Linked DNA regions of Homo sapiens: region 1 is linked to region 2. The links come from fine-mapping of genetic effects on gene expression. Tissue or cell type: tibial nerve. Region 2 holds a variant in brackets; the other region holds the start of a gene. All regions are shown on one strand. Distances are between the middles of the regions.

Evidence for each region. PIP is the estimated chance that this variant, and not a neighbour inherited with it, causes the effect.
Region 1: it holds the start of OR52N2, and the variant in region 2 is fine-mapped to the expression of OR52N2 in tibial nerve (GTEx, PIP 0.94).

The regions. Positions count from the first base shown.
Region 1 is chr11:5,804,027-5,812,297 of GRCh38, forward strand. It overlaps OR52N2 (olfactory receptor family 52 subfamily N member 2), which reads left to right and starts at 4,898. Exons shown (of 2, transcript NM_001005174.3): 1 at 4,898-5,028.
Region 2 is chr11:5,751,930-5,760,200 of GRCh38, forward strand. OR52N4 (olfactory receptor family 52 subfamily N member 4) reads left to right here and starts at 2,314. Exons shown (of 2, transcript NM_001005175.5): 1 at 2,314-2,376; 2 at 2,764-4,029. The coding sequence starts at 2,812. The coding sequence ends at 3,777. The variant G/A (reference allele first, on the strand shown) is at 4,051.

The sequences.
Region 1 (8,271 bases), 52 kb after region 2:
CAAATTAATGACAAATGTGCTTTCCCTTAAATTAAAAAAAACTATAGATATAGCTTGTTGTTGGGTATAAAAATATTCTGGGAATAAATGCTCGGTGCCACAAAGTGAAACCCGCACTCAGGCAAAAGTTATCTTAGCAAGGCAATTTACTTCTGCAGAAGGGTGCCACTCACATCAATCAAGATCACAAGAGCACAGGGAACAAAGGAGAGCAGCGAAGTTCTCTCTCTAATGGTAGTTTCTACTTCTGTGTCACTCCCCCATGGGCCGGGGTCAGACCGCACAGTCTGAGCTAACCTGATTTGTTACTTGCAGATATCTTTCTAAATATGGAAGGGAAGGGGGACTTGAGGTACAGTGGTGAGGCCTGTGAGATGTGCAGTTTCGGGGGAACAGTGGGTGCAGATAACTAAGGGAACAGACGTGAGTTATTGATTAGAGCTGATGGGAAGCAGGTAGGCTGTTTTACAGTAACTAGGGACAAGGGGGAACAGGAAAGTTGAGTTTGAGAACAAAAGACAAGGAAGTTAGCAGGCTAAATCTTTGAAGAGGAACTCAGAGAAATTCATTGTATCTTACAATTCCCCCCTTTTAATTTTCTTATGATTCTTTCTCTTCAAACGTTTTTAACATGTCTTGGCTTTGCCATTCGATTTGATCTTCTAAAAGGAAAAGCTTACTTGAATAAGGTGGAGGAGAACTAAGGGAGGCTTTAGTAAGTGCTGTTTGTACAGTCCTTTGTATTAGCCTATGGATGCGTGGTATGACATAACACCTAACAAGAAAGAGTACACTTATTACAATTGCAAGAGAAATAAGAATTAAGGCTATGATTCTTTTCCGTTTACTGAACTACTTTCTTAGCCATCCTGAAATAGGGTCAGTGACTAGAATTTTTAGCTAGTTTATTGGATAAAGTGGTAAGTCTTTGTAAGGCCTTTTTTATGCTCCTATCGGGGGCAGTGTTGTTTGGGATTAAGGTAAAACATTGGGTTTTAATCATAACACAAACCTCACCTTTTTGGCTAATAACATGTCTAGTGCTATTCTGTTTTCTTAAGCTCTTTGGTTAGTAGGCTTTAATTGGTCAGCTATTCCTTTGATGGCATCCCTGGTGTAATTAATAAACTGCTGCTGATTATAATGGATGTAATTTATCTAAGCTACATTTTTATTAATAGTTACTTGTGGAAATATGGATTCAAATTCTGCAGCTATTTGGTCTCGGGCTTTGAACCTGTCAGGCACTCCTCGTGGGACACTAATGGCATCTATGTAAACTTGAGAGTTAAAAGACTTATAAGGGGCTTCTCTTATTTTTCAGTGTTGTGGTTTTTCTTTTTCTGGTTGATGAAATTCTACAGTGAAAGGGATAGCCAACTGGACAAAAGCACAAGTGCCGCTCCCATTACTTGGCAGAGTGTCCGTTAAGGGTGTACTGCAACACCACCATCTATCCTCTGAAGGATGACTAAGGGCAGACTGATGGGTAAGCTCTTGGAAGGGCCTAAGCTTGCTGCAACGTGTTAAGCTTCCAAGGAATGCCAAGTTCTCCCCATGTTGTGAGAGACATGAGGTGAAATTGACGTCAGGAGGTGGAAGCTGAATGGCCCTCGGGGGCTGACCTCCAGGGTGTTGGACTTCAGGATATAGCAGAGAGAGAGCTTGGCATGATTTGTTGCCTTAGGCTGTGGAATCTTGGAAAACAGCTACTATACAGCCCATGTCTGGTCGACTGAGGGACTATCCTAGCGGAAAGGAGACAATCTGGGCCTCTGGTCTGCTGTGCACACAAGAATAACAATTGCTTTTATTCAAAGTGCGGACAGAATATTGAATCCATCCCAACTAAGCATTTATATCTTGATACCTTGTTTCAATTGCTAGAGTTTGTCTTAGATCCTTCACTTCTACAATATTTACTTTGGCATTGTTGTTGGGCAGGGTAGAAAGTTTAGAAGGTGAAGGAGGGTCAATAAAGCGTATTTTAAAGAGGCCTACAGGGTCGTATCCATTGGCCTCTGCCCCTAAGCCGTAAAAGCCTTCTAAAGGAAGCGTATGGTTGGTAGAGGTAGCAGCATTAATAGAGATAGTTACTGGGTTACAATGGTAAAGTTGGCAATTAGAGGGGGTGGTTCATTTGGTAAGGAGGAGGTAAGATTTTAGGTTGGTACAGCCTTCTGGGGAGGTCTCGCCGTGTTCATTGGCAGTCAGGATGACATCTGCTCATTGAGAACGTATCTCCTAACTTAAGGTGCCTTGGTACCCCCACCATGAGCAAGGTGTGAGGTCAGTGGTTTCTCTGAAGGGGCAGAGGTGTTTTTCTAAAGGAGAGACATACCTTTGCCATTGTTCGTCCTCTTCACAAGGCATAACAAGGCAAGCCTCAAAGGTAATGATTTGGGATGAGTCTGACTTAGTTACATTGATAATAAGGTCAGCAATAGAATGAGGAAAGAAGAAAGGGTAATAGAATAGATAAAAGAGAGTTAAACTTTCCTTAACTTTAGTTTGAGGGGTTTTTTCCCTTGAATAATGGTCCATGACTTTGGGGATGGTGGTGCTTTCTTGACTCGGGTATGATGGGTCCATCTTTTCTTGCTGTTTGGACTGCAGTTTCAGTGGTTTGAAGCACTAGGCCAGCTCCTCAGGCTGGTGTCAATATACTGGGAACTTTAGGGGTGGCACCTGTACCGGAAAATTTTGAGTTCTGAGGGAAGAGAAAGTGGAAGATAAACCAAGTATGTAGGAATGTTGGCAGTAGATTGTTTTGGGAGGTAGTTTGGACTTACTAGGGTAATAGGAAGATAGAAGACATTTCATCTATGGCAACCAAGTCTCTAGACTTGTTTGGCTAAGGGTATAAATTCCTAAACACATATAAACTTTGACTGTGTTATACATCGCTTGGGGTCTTTAATGGGTAATGTTTTTCTGAGTTCCCTTTAGTGCCTACAGGAGAAACAGCAGCCTGTTCGGCTTATCTGATTTGCTAGGTTATTTTAAAAGACAGGCTTTTCTGGTGCTTGGGGACATGGACAATAGATACTTGGGTGATTAACTCCTCATGAACAAGGCTTTGACTTTTACTATTAATCCAGTCTGAAATTTGCTAAATGTATTAGCCACTGTAAAGGCATATTTAGAATTAGTACAGATGGTTCTTTCCTGGTCCTGCAGGTAATTTAAAGCTTGACTAAGTGCAGACAGCTTATAAATTTCTCTAGGAACTTCTTTATTAATTACTGAACACCTGTTGCGTTCTTTTTCCCTTAATCATTCCTGAAGAGGGTTTCTTCTAAGTTTGGCCGAACGTTTGTAATCAGTTAAATCTAAACACGTGTGCTTTCTTTTTAGCTTTGGATATCTCATTAAGAAACTTGCTAGATTAAGCGAATTATCAGTCATTAATGTTAAACTATACTTTTAAACTCGTACTTATACACATGTAATACTTTTCTGGTGGTACATTTTAATATAAGTGACTTTAAATAATCAAAGTCTTTTCTGGTGGATATTTTCACTTTTAATACTGGCCTGACCCATAATAAATGCTAGCGGATATATCAGCTGAAAGATTATCTACTACTTGTTCAGGAAACTTAGCCGCGGGGATGCCTAGCTGCTTGGAGCCGCATCTGAAGCCTGTATTACTTGACCCTGGCAAAAGTAAGGCATATGTCCCATAATGTAGTCTGCTTAGGCATAGGCTGCGGCAGAGCATGGGCTTTTTCTGCTGTGGGGGCGCACTAGAGGCTGCACGACAACGACAACATGTTGAGGCAGATCCTTGATGTCGCTAGCCTGTCAAAAGCCACCTGGCGAATGAGGAGCTTGGATTCCTTTCACAGAGGAGGACTTAGGCTGGGCCTGAGGGGAAGGGTTGGGGGTATTAGATGGGGGACTAGGGGCATTAGGTAAAGGATGGTCCAGGGAATCCTATGTGCTGTTTTCTTTGCTAGGATCCTCTGAGAACCCTCCTTCACTGTCTCCACAGTAGGGGCAGGTGCATAAGGGAAAGGGAGGACAGGTCTTTGCCTCCAAAAAAGAGCATAGTCCAGTTCTTCTTGAGAAACTGGGCTTTTATTATTTACATGTTAAACTGAAAGTTGACATAGTATATCCTCAGTTGACCCAAACTTTGGCCAGAAGATTGACGGATTGAGGTTAGGTCTTTGAGTCCAAATAGAAAAGCAATATTTTATCATTTGTTGCTTTTTCTTATGTTTAGTTCTTTCATTATCTTCCCAACATTTTAGCATGAGACTTAGGGGACTATCAGGTGGTATATCTTTGTTACTATTCATATCCTTTTTCATGAGACTTAGGGGACTATCAGGTGGTATATATCTTTGTTACTATTCTTACCATTTTTGCTTGTAATATTTCCCATATTGGGTCTTGGCTAGGCGCAATCTCTCATATTAGGAATTTCTTGCCTAACGGGGCATTGCTGTGGCTCAACCCCATCATATTAGGGATTTCTCGCCTATTTGGCGAGGGATTCCTTGTGGCTCAACCCCTTGTGTTAGGGGACCTCTTGCCTATCCTTCACTGGAATCGTAACTGAGGCTCAATTCGCCTATCCTTTAGCCCCACCTGCTGGAGGCTCTTTGCATCCTTTCGCTTTGTCCACTCTGGCCGCTTCCCTCGTGGGAATATTTCAGGTTCCTCTTAGCCTTGATGGCGGGTCAGCATAAACCCCTGATGGGACCCCCATATGAGGTGACCACAGAACCACAGATTGGACTCATTCATTCTGCGCAGCAGGAGCGCTTGCTACCATTCACGCACTTTCAACCTCCAGAATGCCCCGACCCACGGCCCCCAACCACCAAGGAAGTACTTTGTCGCCCCTGTGACGTTTCCTACCTTGATCTGTGCACAGAGTTTACCTGGTCACCGCGGTATTGCAAGCCTCTCCTCCTCGCGTTGCTGAGAGTCCGAGTTTATTCATCACAATGGGTGGGTCCCGATCTCCCCTCCCTGAGACTACCGCAACGGGGCATTGGAATGCGTCTCCCCTGGGTAGGATGACTGAAGATCCCTTTCTGAAGGAGAGTGGGGATCCCAGATGAGCCCCCAGAGTTGTTGGGTGTAAAAATGCTCTAGGAATAAATGCTCAGTGCCGCAAAGTGAAACCAACACTTAGGCAAAAGTTCTCTTAGCAAGGCAATTTACTTCTGTAGAAGGGTGCCACTCGCATCAATCAAGATCACAAGAGCACAGGGAAGGAAGGAGAGCAGGGAGCTTTTATCTCTGACAGTTTCTACTTCTGTGTCACTCCCCCATGGGCTGGGGTCCCCCATGGGCTGTGTCACTCCCCCATGGGCTGAGCTGACCAGATTGGCTACTTGCAAATATCTTTCTAAATATGGAAGGGAAGGGGAACACGGGGTACAGTGGTGAGGCATGTGAGATGTGCAGTTTCCGGGGAACAATGAGTCCAGGTAACTACGGGAACAGATGTGAGTTATTGATTAGAGCTGATGGGAAGCGGTAGGCTGTTTTACAGTAACTAAGGAAAAGGAAAGTTGAGTTTGAGAACAAAAGACCAGGAAGTTAGCGGCTAAATCTTTGAAGAGGAACTCAGAGAAAATTATTGTATCTTACATTGTCTTTCAAAAAAAAAAAAAAAGTAAAGCTATTTTCAAAGCAGTTCTATAAAAAAGCTGAAAAATGATTACCATTGCCCAAGGATAGTTTCACTATTCTGTGGGCTAATTAAAGACAAGAAATTTAAATGTGTCCCAGAGATTCTGGCACATTGTGTCTTTGTTCTCATTGATTTCAAAGAACATCTTTATTTCTGCCTTCCTTTTGTTATTTACCCAGTAGTCATGCAGGAGAGGCTATCACAATCTGAATTTAGTACAAGAAGATACTGTATTATGAGAAAGAACAAATAGCAGTAAGTTTAAGGAAAGGAAGAGAGATTTGGGAAAACGGTATAATTAATTATTCTACACTTATTACTTCAAGTATAAGGACTTCATTTAGAACAACATTCTTCTTGTCATAACTCATTCCTCTGAGTGGGAGAAGCATCAGATATCAGTGAGCTATGGGTGAGCTATATGCTGAGCCTTGACGCTTCACAGAAGTCAATCTCCCTGCCTGAATAGGCCACGCATTCTGGTCTGTCCACATTAGCAAAGTCAGTGGCCAAGCTTTCCGAAAGAGACTTGTATGTGTCTATGCTAGGGACTGGATGAGCAAGCTAGTCTAAATCAGAGGCAAGGCAGAACAAGGTATTTTGCCTGAAAAATCTAAAGCCTCATTTTCCCAGATGTATATCATAAAATTGTTGACATTCTCTGTCAACTCCTTGTCTCCTGTGTGTCTCAGCTCTGAACTGAGGAGGAAAGTACAAGGTTGTATTAAGAGGCCCTCAAAAATCCCAAAACATTTTAAAATGGAATTATGATGGAAAGATAAATAAATAAGGTAGGGGAAAAGTCAAATGAAGCAAAAACGCAAAGGAATGTGTTATAAGTATGAGATGTAATGTCACAAATTACAAATACCAGAAAAGACTTTCAGAAGGAACAAATGCTCAAGGTGGTACAGAAGATAAGCTGGTGTTAACATTGTGGAAGGGGGATGGGAGGTAAGAACTGTTTAAGGAAGAGGAAATGGCCGGCATGGAGGTTTTGAGGAATGAATGTGCCACACATGAAGGGACTGAAAACAAGATTAAGTGGGCTCAAATCAGGGGCCAGTTCTATCTGAGTTTATAGTACACAATCTTTTTTTTTAACCTAATATGTTACCTTTTTGTTGTTTTGTTATTGTTGTTTTGCTTCATACTAAACCTAGAGCCCTATGCCTATGATGTCAGGTAATTTCATAGAGTCATTTTTGGGTTTATGGTAAGAACAAGAGAGACAATGAAAAGGTTTAAGAAGATGAATGATAAAAGCTTTCTACTTGGAGATAAAAATTTTTTTATTGTAATACAGAAAGTTGAGAAAATAATTTTTGAAAAAACTATTGGCAAAAGTGGCTAAACACAAAATATATTAAAATATTTATAAAATATGATATATAAATATAATTTAAACTTTGGCCACCTGTTTTATTCTTGATATGTAAGATTTAATATAAAAATGAAATTCAAAAGCTAAGAGAGTGTATTACTACCAGACCTGCCTTACAAGAAATGCTAAAGCTGAAAAAACAGGATGCTGATTAGTGACATGAAAACGTATGAAAGAATAAAAGTCACTGGCAAAAGTAAGTACATAGTGAAACTCTGAATAATACTGTTATGGTGGTATATAAATCACCTATATCATTAATATGAATGTTAAAAGACAAAATTAATTTAAAAAATAGACAGCTACAATAGTTTGTTAAGGGATATACAATATAAAAAGAAGTAAATGTGACATCAGAAACATAAAATATCAGGGAGAGTTGAGTAGAAGTATGGAACTTCTTTATGCAATTGAAGTTGTTATCAGCCTAAAATAGCCTTTTATAAATATAGAATGTTTTATGTAAGACTTGAGGTAACCACAAAGCAAAAACCTATAGTAGATGCACAAAATATAGAAAGTAAAGAACGAAAGCACACTATTAGAGAAAATTATCTATCACAAAAGAAGACAACAAGAGAAAAAGAAGGGAAGAAAGAATGTAAAAAACAACAAGAAAACAACAAAATGGCTGTAGTAAGTCCTTACTTATCAATAATTACCTTGAAAGCAAAATGATTAAATTCTTCAATCAGAAGACATAGATTTGCTGAATGAATTAAAAATAGAAGACCCAACTATTTGCTGCCTGTGAGGGCATCACTTCACCTCTAAAGACACACACACAGGTTGAAAGCAAAGGAATGGAAAAAGATATTTTGGGCAAATATAAGGCAAAAGAGTTCAGAAGTAGCTATATGTATATTGGCTAAAATAGCATTTAAATCAAAAACTGTTAAGGCAGGAACAGAAAATCAAACACTGCATGTTCTCACTCATAAGTGGGAATTGAACAATGAGAACACATGGACATAGAGAGGGAAACAACACACACCAAGGCCTGTTGGGGGTTGGGGGTTGAGGGGAGGGAACTTAAAGGATGGGTCAATAGGTACAGCAAACCACCATGGCACACGTATACCTATGTGACAAACCTGCACATTCTGCACACGTATCCTGTTTTTTACTTTGAGAAGAAATGAGGAGGGTCGGGCAAGGTGGCTCACACCTGTAATCCCAGCACTTTGGGAGGCCGAGGCAGGCGGATCACGAGGTCAGGAGATCTAGACCA
Region 2 (8,271 bases):
AAGGACATTTGAGACCTCCTGATGATGGTTCTGCTTGAAGAATGTATAGGGATTAGCTACATTTGAGGGGAGTGGGCAAAGGGAGCACCAAGGAGATAGAGGTTTGCCTATCACAAAGCTGAGAATGTCAGTGCGATATGAGTAGGAAACAGCAAACAGCAACAGAAGAAAATGCTGTTCCTACCACTTTGACCTGTCAGAATTCTAATCATGCTCCAGGTCTGGAAGCATCTGTCCTCTTCTCTAGGAGCATCTCCTGAGGCTAGGTTAGACACACAGGTGCTCCTATGACACCCAGTATAACTCTGACATTTTGTAATGACTTGAGTACATATCTTTGAGGAGCATGCCTATTAACAAGTTTAACCTGTGTTTTTCTACTATTTTCAAAACAAGTTGCCTTTTGATAAATCTGATCTGTCCTCTTCATCTTACCCAATAAGGCAGAACATGTGACTGTACTTCCTATCAGATGCTAATCTTAAAACAGTGTATTTTATTAATGGAGGTTAGGATGAATACCTCCTCTGATGGGGCACAAAAGAGAGTTCATTTGGTGGCACTCATGATTCCTATGGTGTTAATTTTTGTAAGCATTGCCAAAATGGCTGCCAGCCTGAGTAGAAAATACAAATATGGGTATTGAGCACTTAAAATGTGGTAGCATGTTTTAACATATTACGTCCTTTAATCCTCTTGGCAATTTAATTTTTGTTATTATAAATTCTAACATACATATGCAATTTTACAATTAATCCAATTACATGTTGATTGATTTTTACAACCTGAATCTTGTATATCTCACAACCAAATCAAGTAAGGGAATATGACCAGCAACTAACAGGACCCTTCTACCACATACTGCCTTTCAGTTATCACTCTCTCTCACTTTTTAAAAAGATTTTTCTATTTCTAATAGCACAGAATAATTTGATCCGTTTTTGTATTTCATTTAAAGATCACAAGATGTTACATCTATTTTAAGTCTTTCTAAAAAAAATTAACACATATTGTGAGATTCGTCTATATTATGCATATAGTCATAGATTGTTTATTCTTATTGTTACGTGGTATTTCATTGTGGGAATGTACCAAAATTTATTTACCCATTTGATGTTGATGAACATTTAGGTTTTTTCCAGTTTTAGGCTATACTACAAATCATGTTTCAATAAGCATTCTAATTGATGTATTCTAGTAAATATATATACATAGTTTTGTTGGAAATGGCAATGGTGGTCATGTGTATGTTTATCATTATGAGATATCTAATAAAGAGTTGTTCTAATTTACATGTCTACCAGCAGTAAATGAGAGTTCCAGTTGTTCTACATCTTTGCCAATGCTTGGTATTTTTAGTTCTTTTCATTTTAGCTGTCCTGTTTGGTATGTCACTACATACCAAAAAAAGGTGCTTTGTCATGAGAGATACAATTTTTACTTATTTTTCTGATTAATATAAAAGTTTGTGCCTATTTACCTGTTCATTGGCAATTTTATTTCTCTTTTGAAGTGTATGTTTCTTCCTGCAACTTTTTCTTACTGATGTTGTTGAAGTACTTTATATATTTTCTGTATGTATGCATTTGGATATCTTCTAGTTTGCGTTGACTAGATACATAAAGAACAAGAAAGATATCTTGAAAAGTGAAAAAATTGAATCAAAACTTCATTGACTTTTTTAATTTTAAATTTTTGTGGGCACATAGTAGGTGTATATATTTATGGGTGTATGAGATATTTTGATAGAAGCATACAATGTGTAATAATCCCTTTTAAAGGGCCGGGCACAGTGGCTCATGCCTGTAATCCCAGCACTTTGGGAGCCTGATGTGGGTGGATTACCTGAGGTCAGGAGTTGGAGACCAACCTGACCAATATAGTGAAACCCCATCTCTGCTAAAAATACAAAAATTAGCTGGGCGTGGTGGCATGTGCCTGTAGTCGCAGCTACTCGGGAGGCTAAGACAGGAGAATTGCTTGAATCCGGGAGGTGGAGGTTGCAGCCAAGATTGCGCCACTGCACTCCAGCCTGGGCAACAAAGCAAGACTCTGCCTCAAAAAAAAAAAAAAAAAAAAAAAAAAATCCCAGTAAAGTAAATAGGGGTATCCATCATCTCAAACATTTATCCTTTGTGTTACAGACAACCCAATTATATTATTTTAGTTATTTTAAAATATACAATTAAATTATTATTGAGTATAGACACCCAATAAATTTACTAATTTTTGAGACCCCAAGCTTCATTGAGTAATAATTTAATTAAAATTTCAAAATTCTTTGAACAGTGCCTGAGTACCCAAGAATAAATATCAGTCAGTCATTAAGAATAAAAATTAAAAAGTCAACATCTCATCTCTCAGATCATCAGTGAGGTAATCAAATGACTCTTCTTTAAAATTATATCTATATTGAGATGAGTATAGTTATAGTTAAGTAAGATATTCTAATAAAAATACCATTTGAAAAGTCAGAATTATACTTGATTATAAATCTATGAGATTGGGAATATGTCTTTTTATAAAATAATTGATGTTTGATTGGCATCTGTGTTGAAAACTTAGACTGCTCAATAAGAATTTTTTACTGAATCAATTAATTAATCAATCAATAAAACTAAACAGACAAACAAAATTATTTCTTGGCACTCAGAAATTTGGTTGTTGGACCATTAAAATGCATTATGGAATTTTTAAAAGTTGGGGGAGAGGGAGACAGTAAAAATAACCTATATTTTCTCTTGTTTTTTTTTTTAACTCTAGGAAAGCCCAGACAAATTTTGAGCTATTTCATAACCTACCAGACTTATCATGCTAACACTGAATAAAACAGACCTAATACCAGCTTCATTTATTCTGAATGGAGTCCCAGGACTGGAAGACACACAACTCTGGATTTCCTTCCCATTCTGCTCTATGTATGTTGTGGCTATGGTAGGGAATTGTGGACTCCTCTACCTCATTCACTATGAGGATGCCCTGCACAAACCCATGTACTACTTCTTGGCCATGCTTTCCTTTACTGACCTTGTTATGTGCTCTAGTACAATCCCTAAAGCCCTCTGCATCTTCTGGTTTCATCTCAAGGACATTGGATTTGATGAATGCCTTGTCCAGATGTTCTTCACCCACACCTTCACAGGGATGGAGTCTGGGGTGCTTATGCTTATGGCCCTGGATCGCTATGTGGCCATCTGCTACCCCTTACGCTATTCAACTATCCTCACCAATCCTGTAATTGCAAAGGTTGGGACTGCCACCTTCCTGAGAGGGGTATTACTCATTATTCCCTTTACTTTCCTCACCAAGCTCCTGCCCTACTGCAGAGGCAATATACTTCCCCATACCTACTGTGACCACATGTCTGTAGCCAAATTGTCCTGTGGTAATGTCAAGGTCAATGCCATCTATGGTCTGATGGTTGCCCTCCTGATTTGGGGCTTTGACATACTGTGTATCACCAACTCCTATACCATGATTCTCCGGGCAGTGGTCAGCCTCTCCTCAGCAGATGCTCGGCAGAAGGCCTTTAATACCTGCACTGCCCACATTTGTGCCATTGTTTTCTCCTATACTCCAGCTTTCTTCTCCTTCTTTTCCCACCGCTTTGGGGAACACATAATCCCCCCTTCTTGCCACATCATTGTAGCCAATATTTATCTGCTCCTACCACCCACTATGAACCCTATTGTCTATGGGGTGAAAACCAAACAGATACGAGACTGTGTCATAAGGATCCTTTCAGGTTCTAAGGATACCAAATCCTACAGCATGTGAATGAACACTTGCCAGGAGTGAGAAGAGAAGGAAAGAATTACTTCTATTTGCCTCTTATGCAGGAGTTCATAAAATCTTTCTGGAAGCACTGTATTGATCACAAAATGGAGTTTGTTAACTGGTGCATTCTCAATAAGTACCTTGGGAATCTCAACATCATTGGAAGGCCCACCAACATTTCTATAAATTTTTTACCTTCTCACTCATGTGAAGGACCAGTCTAATAATTAAACCATATTTTATTCGACAAAACCTAATGAGTCCATTTTTTAT[G/A]AAAAGACAAATCTAAGTAGAAGGAGATGATGTGAGTCTTCTTTTCAATGATCACAATTTTCAGATTAATATTTCAGATTAATAGCCAGTTATTACTTTTGTCTAGAAAACATGTGCTATATATTTCTCATAACTACCAAAAACCTGTTTCTTCAATGACATTTTCCTGAAGGAGAATCTAGAGTGCATGCCATAAAGTCTAAAATGAGTTTTAAGTCTCTAAGCATCTAGCTAAAATATTATTAGGCTGAATAGGTCACATAATTATTTCACAACAGAATAATTGGATATTTCGTTTTCTTTAAAGGGGCTTTTTAAAAAGCACAGAGCCTGGAAAGAGAGGTAGAGATCTTAACCAAAAATAAAAAACAGTATAATTTTTTTCTAAGACCTGTATGAAAGGGGATCAAAATCTACTTGTTTCATTTTATCTCTAATTGTGAATCTAATAAGGAAAATTAGGTATATATTTCTAATATTTAAGATTTATCTAAATTAAAAAACAAGTGAGAAACTATAGAACATAGTATTTTCATATTAATGTCTCATAAACTAAGCCAATTATATAAGGAATATAAACTCAACTTTTACTGTTATTTTTCTGTGTCCAACTGACAAGAAAACATGTACTTCCCTGAAATTTAGTTAACTATAGTCGTCAAATTGCATTTATTCACTTAGTGAATCCTTCTTGACTATGTTGCATTTTACAAGCTGGCCAAACAGCAGTACCCACTAAAATATTATTATCCTCCATGTATCGCCCTATTTCAATATTTGCTACCCTAAAGCTAAAAGTCATCAGTATTCTCTTTACTTCCTCAACCTGACATCACTCTTCTCCTAGTTTGTCTTTCTCTTATCCCAGTTGTTATCTGAAATTGCTATTGTCAACTTCACCAATGCTTTTCCATGTTAACAAACTAAATAGTCCTCCTTCTTTGCTCATCTCACACTCTCTCAGGAATATTGATTTCAACTCAGTATTTCCAATATCTTGAAACACTATATCATTTTTATTTACTTCAGAGACACTACATATTTCATTTATGTAATACACTTTGTTTAACTTTGATTTGTTTTCTACATTCTCTTCCTAGGTGTTCTCCTTTAGTGTCATGGTCTTAAGTATTGGCTATAAAACTAATGATTCCCCAAAGGAAGCTAAGGTTCAGAGAACTGTTTTCCACGTACTTATTCTTCATGGCATACTATCTTTCTTAGACAGGTCAATATCTCCTTTTTCCCCCTGCATTCTCCATGTCTACTCCAATTTTCCATGTCCTGCTCCTCCAGTTTATCTCCCAGTGATTTTGGCATAACGTTTGTTATATTTTAGTTTCCTTAAAAATAGATGTTATTATTCAGTGATTTTATGTGTTTTAATTTAAATACATTTTATTGTGCTAAACAACTTAATCTGCTAATTTCTCACTCAATACTTTAAGATGTATTTATCTTAAATATCTTGGAACATGTATTTATATTTTATACTTGTCAATGTAATGTATATTACTTATTTCAAAATTGTTAAGTTGGCTAGATACAGTTTTGATAAAAAATTTGCATCTACTAACTTCACAACACACAAAAATCACCTGTGCTTCCATACACTATCTTGAACAATGTGAAATGGAAATTAAGAAAACAATCTTTTTTACAGTAATAATATTAAAAAGAATATAACACTTTGGAATAAATTTAACCAAGAAGGCAAACACTTATAAACTGAAAACTACAAAACTTTTTTTTAAAGAAGATGCAAATAAATGGAAAGATATTTTATGTTCACATTTTAGAAGACTTGCTAGTGTTAAAATTCTCGTACTGCATGAGGTAACTATGAACTTAGTGCAATCCTTATTTAATTCCCAATGAAAATTTTTATAGAAATAAAAAAGCAGTGCTAATATTCATGTGGAACCACAAAGGACTATAAATAACCAAAACAATCTTAAGAAAGAACAAAGTTGAAGGCCTCACACCTCATTATTTAAAAACATATTATAAAACGACAACAATTAAAACAGTATGTATAAATAAGTGTAATAAATTAAAACAGCACAGTATTAAGACACATAGACCAATGGAATAGAGAGCTCAGAAATAAACCCATGCACATACGGTTAATGGATGTTCAACAAGGGTGGCAAGAAAACACAATGGGGAAAGACATTCTTGTCAACAAATGAATTTGGGAAAACTGAATATCCATATGCAAAAGGATGAAATTGGACTCTTATCTTACACCACATACAAAAATAGATTCAAAGTGGATCAAAGACTTAAACCAAAGAACTAAAACCACAAAACTCCTAGAAGAAAACAAAATAGAAACATTTCATAACATTGGTCTTGGCTATGATTTCTTAGTTAGGACATTAAAAACACAAGGAAAAATAGCAAAAATAGGCAAATGGGACTATATCAAACTGAAAAGCTTTTGCACAGCAAAGAAAACAATCAACAGAGTAAAAGAGCAACTTACAGAATGGGAAATAATATTTGCAAACCATATATCTGATAAAAGATTAAAATCTAAAACATATAAAGAACTTCCAAAAATCAACAGCAAAAAATTGGTGAGACTATGAGTATTGGAAAGATTGTTTTCTCTTTTTTATTACTCTTTTAAAATTGTTCTACCTGCTCTGTAGTATATCTGTCATACTACTGGCAGGTATGTAAATTTAACTAATTATTTTTTGCATATCTTGTAATGATAAAGATACGCATAACCATCAGGTCCATTTCACACAAAACTGTAAATATATAATTACCAGAACCCATCAATTAGAATGCTTACTGCAACATGATTTGTAGAATAAAACTTAAAACTGGAAATATCTAAATGTCCATCACCATCAGATGGGTTAAATGAATTTTGGTACATTCCCACAGTACATTCCCACAGTACATTCTGTATGACAGTAAGAATATAAAATCTGCAACTTCAGGGACAGACTTTAACTCACTTCTCTTAACAATAAAAAAAAACAATTATACAGAAAGTTAGCAATGATATATAAGAACTTATAACACAATCAATCAACCTAATCTGAAAAACACTTCTAGAACATGCTACTCAACAAGAGGAGAATACATTTTTTTTTTCAAGTGCTCACAGAACATAGCCCTAAATTGTACTGAACAATGAAAGAAACCCAAACTTTTAAAAATAATTTCAAGCATACAGAGTGTATTTTCCACATAAAATGAAGTAAAACTGGAAATAAATAAATATATTATTCATTTTATATATATAATATGTATATATAATGGTAGTATATATATAATATATATATATAATGGTAGTATATATATAATATATATATATAATGGTAGCATATATATGTAATGAAAATCTCCAAACAGTAGAAAACTAAACAGCACATTTCTAAATAATCTTTGGGTCAAAAAGGAAGTGTCAGGGATATTTTAAAAAATATATTGCCGGTCACAGTGGCCCATGCCTATAATCCCAGCACTTTGGGAGGCCGAGGCAGGTGGATCACCTGAGGTCAGAAGTTTGAGACCAGCCTAACTGACATGGTGAAACCCGCTACTAAAAATTAAAAAAAAAAAAAAATTAGCCGGGCATAGTGGCCCATGCCTGTAATCCCAGCTACTTGTGAGGCTGAGGCAGGAGAATCCCTTGAACCCGGGAGGCAGAGTTTGCAGTGATCCGAGATCATGCCACTGCACGTCAGCCGGGGCATCAGAGTAAGACTGTGTCTCAAAAAAAAATTATATTGAAGAAAAATGACAATTCAACATATCAAAATGTGTGGGACACTGCGAAAGTATTACCAAGAGGGAAATTCATACAATTAAATAATTATATTAGGAGAATTAAAAGTCTCAGATCAATAAGCTCAGCTACCACTTCAAGAGTATAGAAAAAATCAGACTATAAATCCAAAGCAAGTAGAAAAAAGAAAACAACAAAAATAAGAGTGAAATCAATAAAACTGAAAACAGAAAAATAATAGAAAAAATCAATAAGGCATGGAGCTGCTTCCCTGAAAAAAATCAACAAAATTTATAATTTCTCACAATACAGTCATCTGTCTGATTCATTTAGAGATATGAAAAAGCCTCGGAATTGTGTAGATAGGATCAATGGGAGCGTGAGAATTCCAAGTTCAGCTATAACATGTACTGTGTGATATCAGGCAAGTTTCTTAAAATTTATGTGCATCAGTTCCTTTATCTATAAGA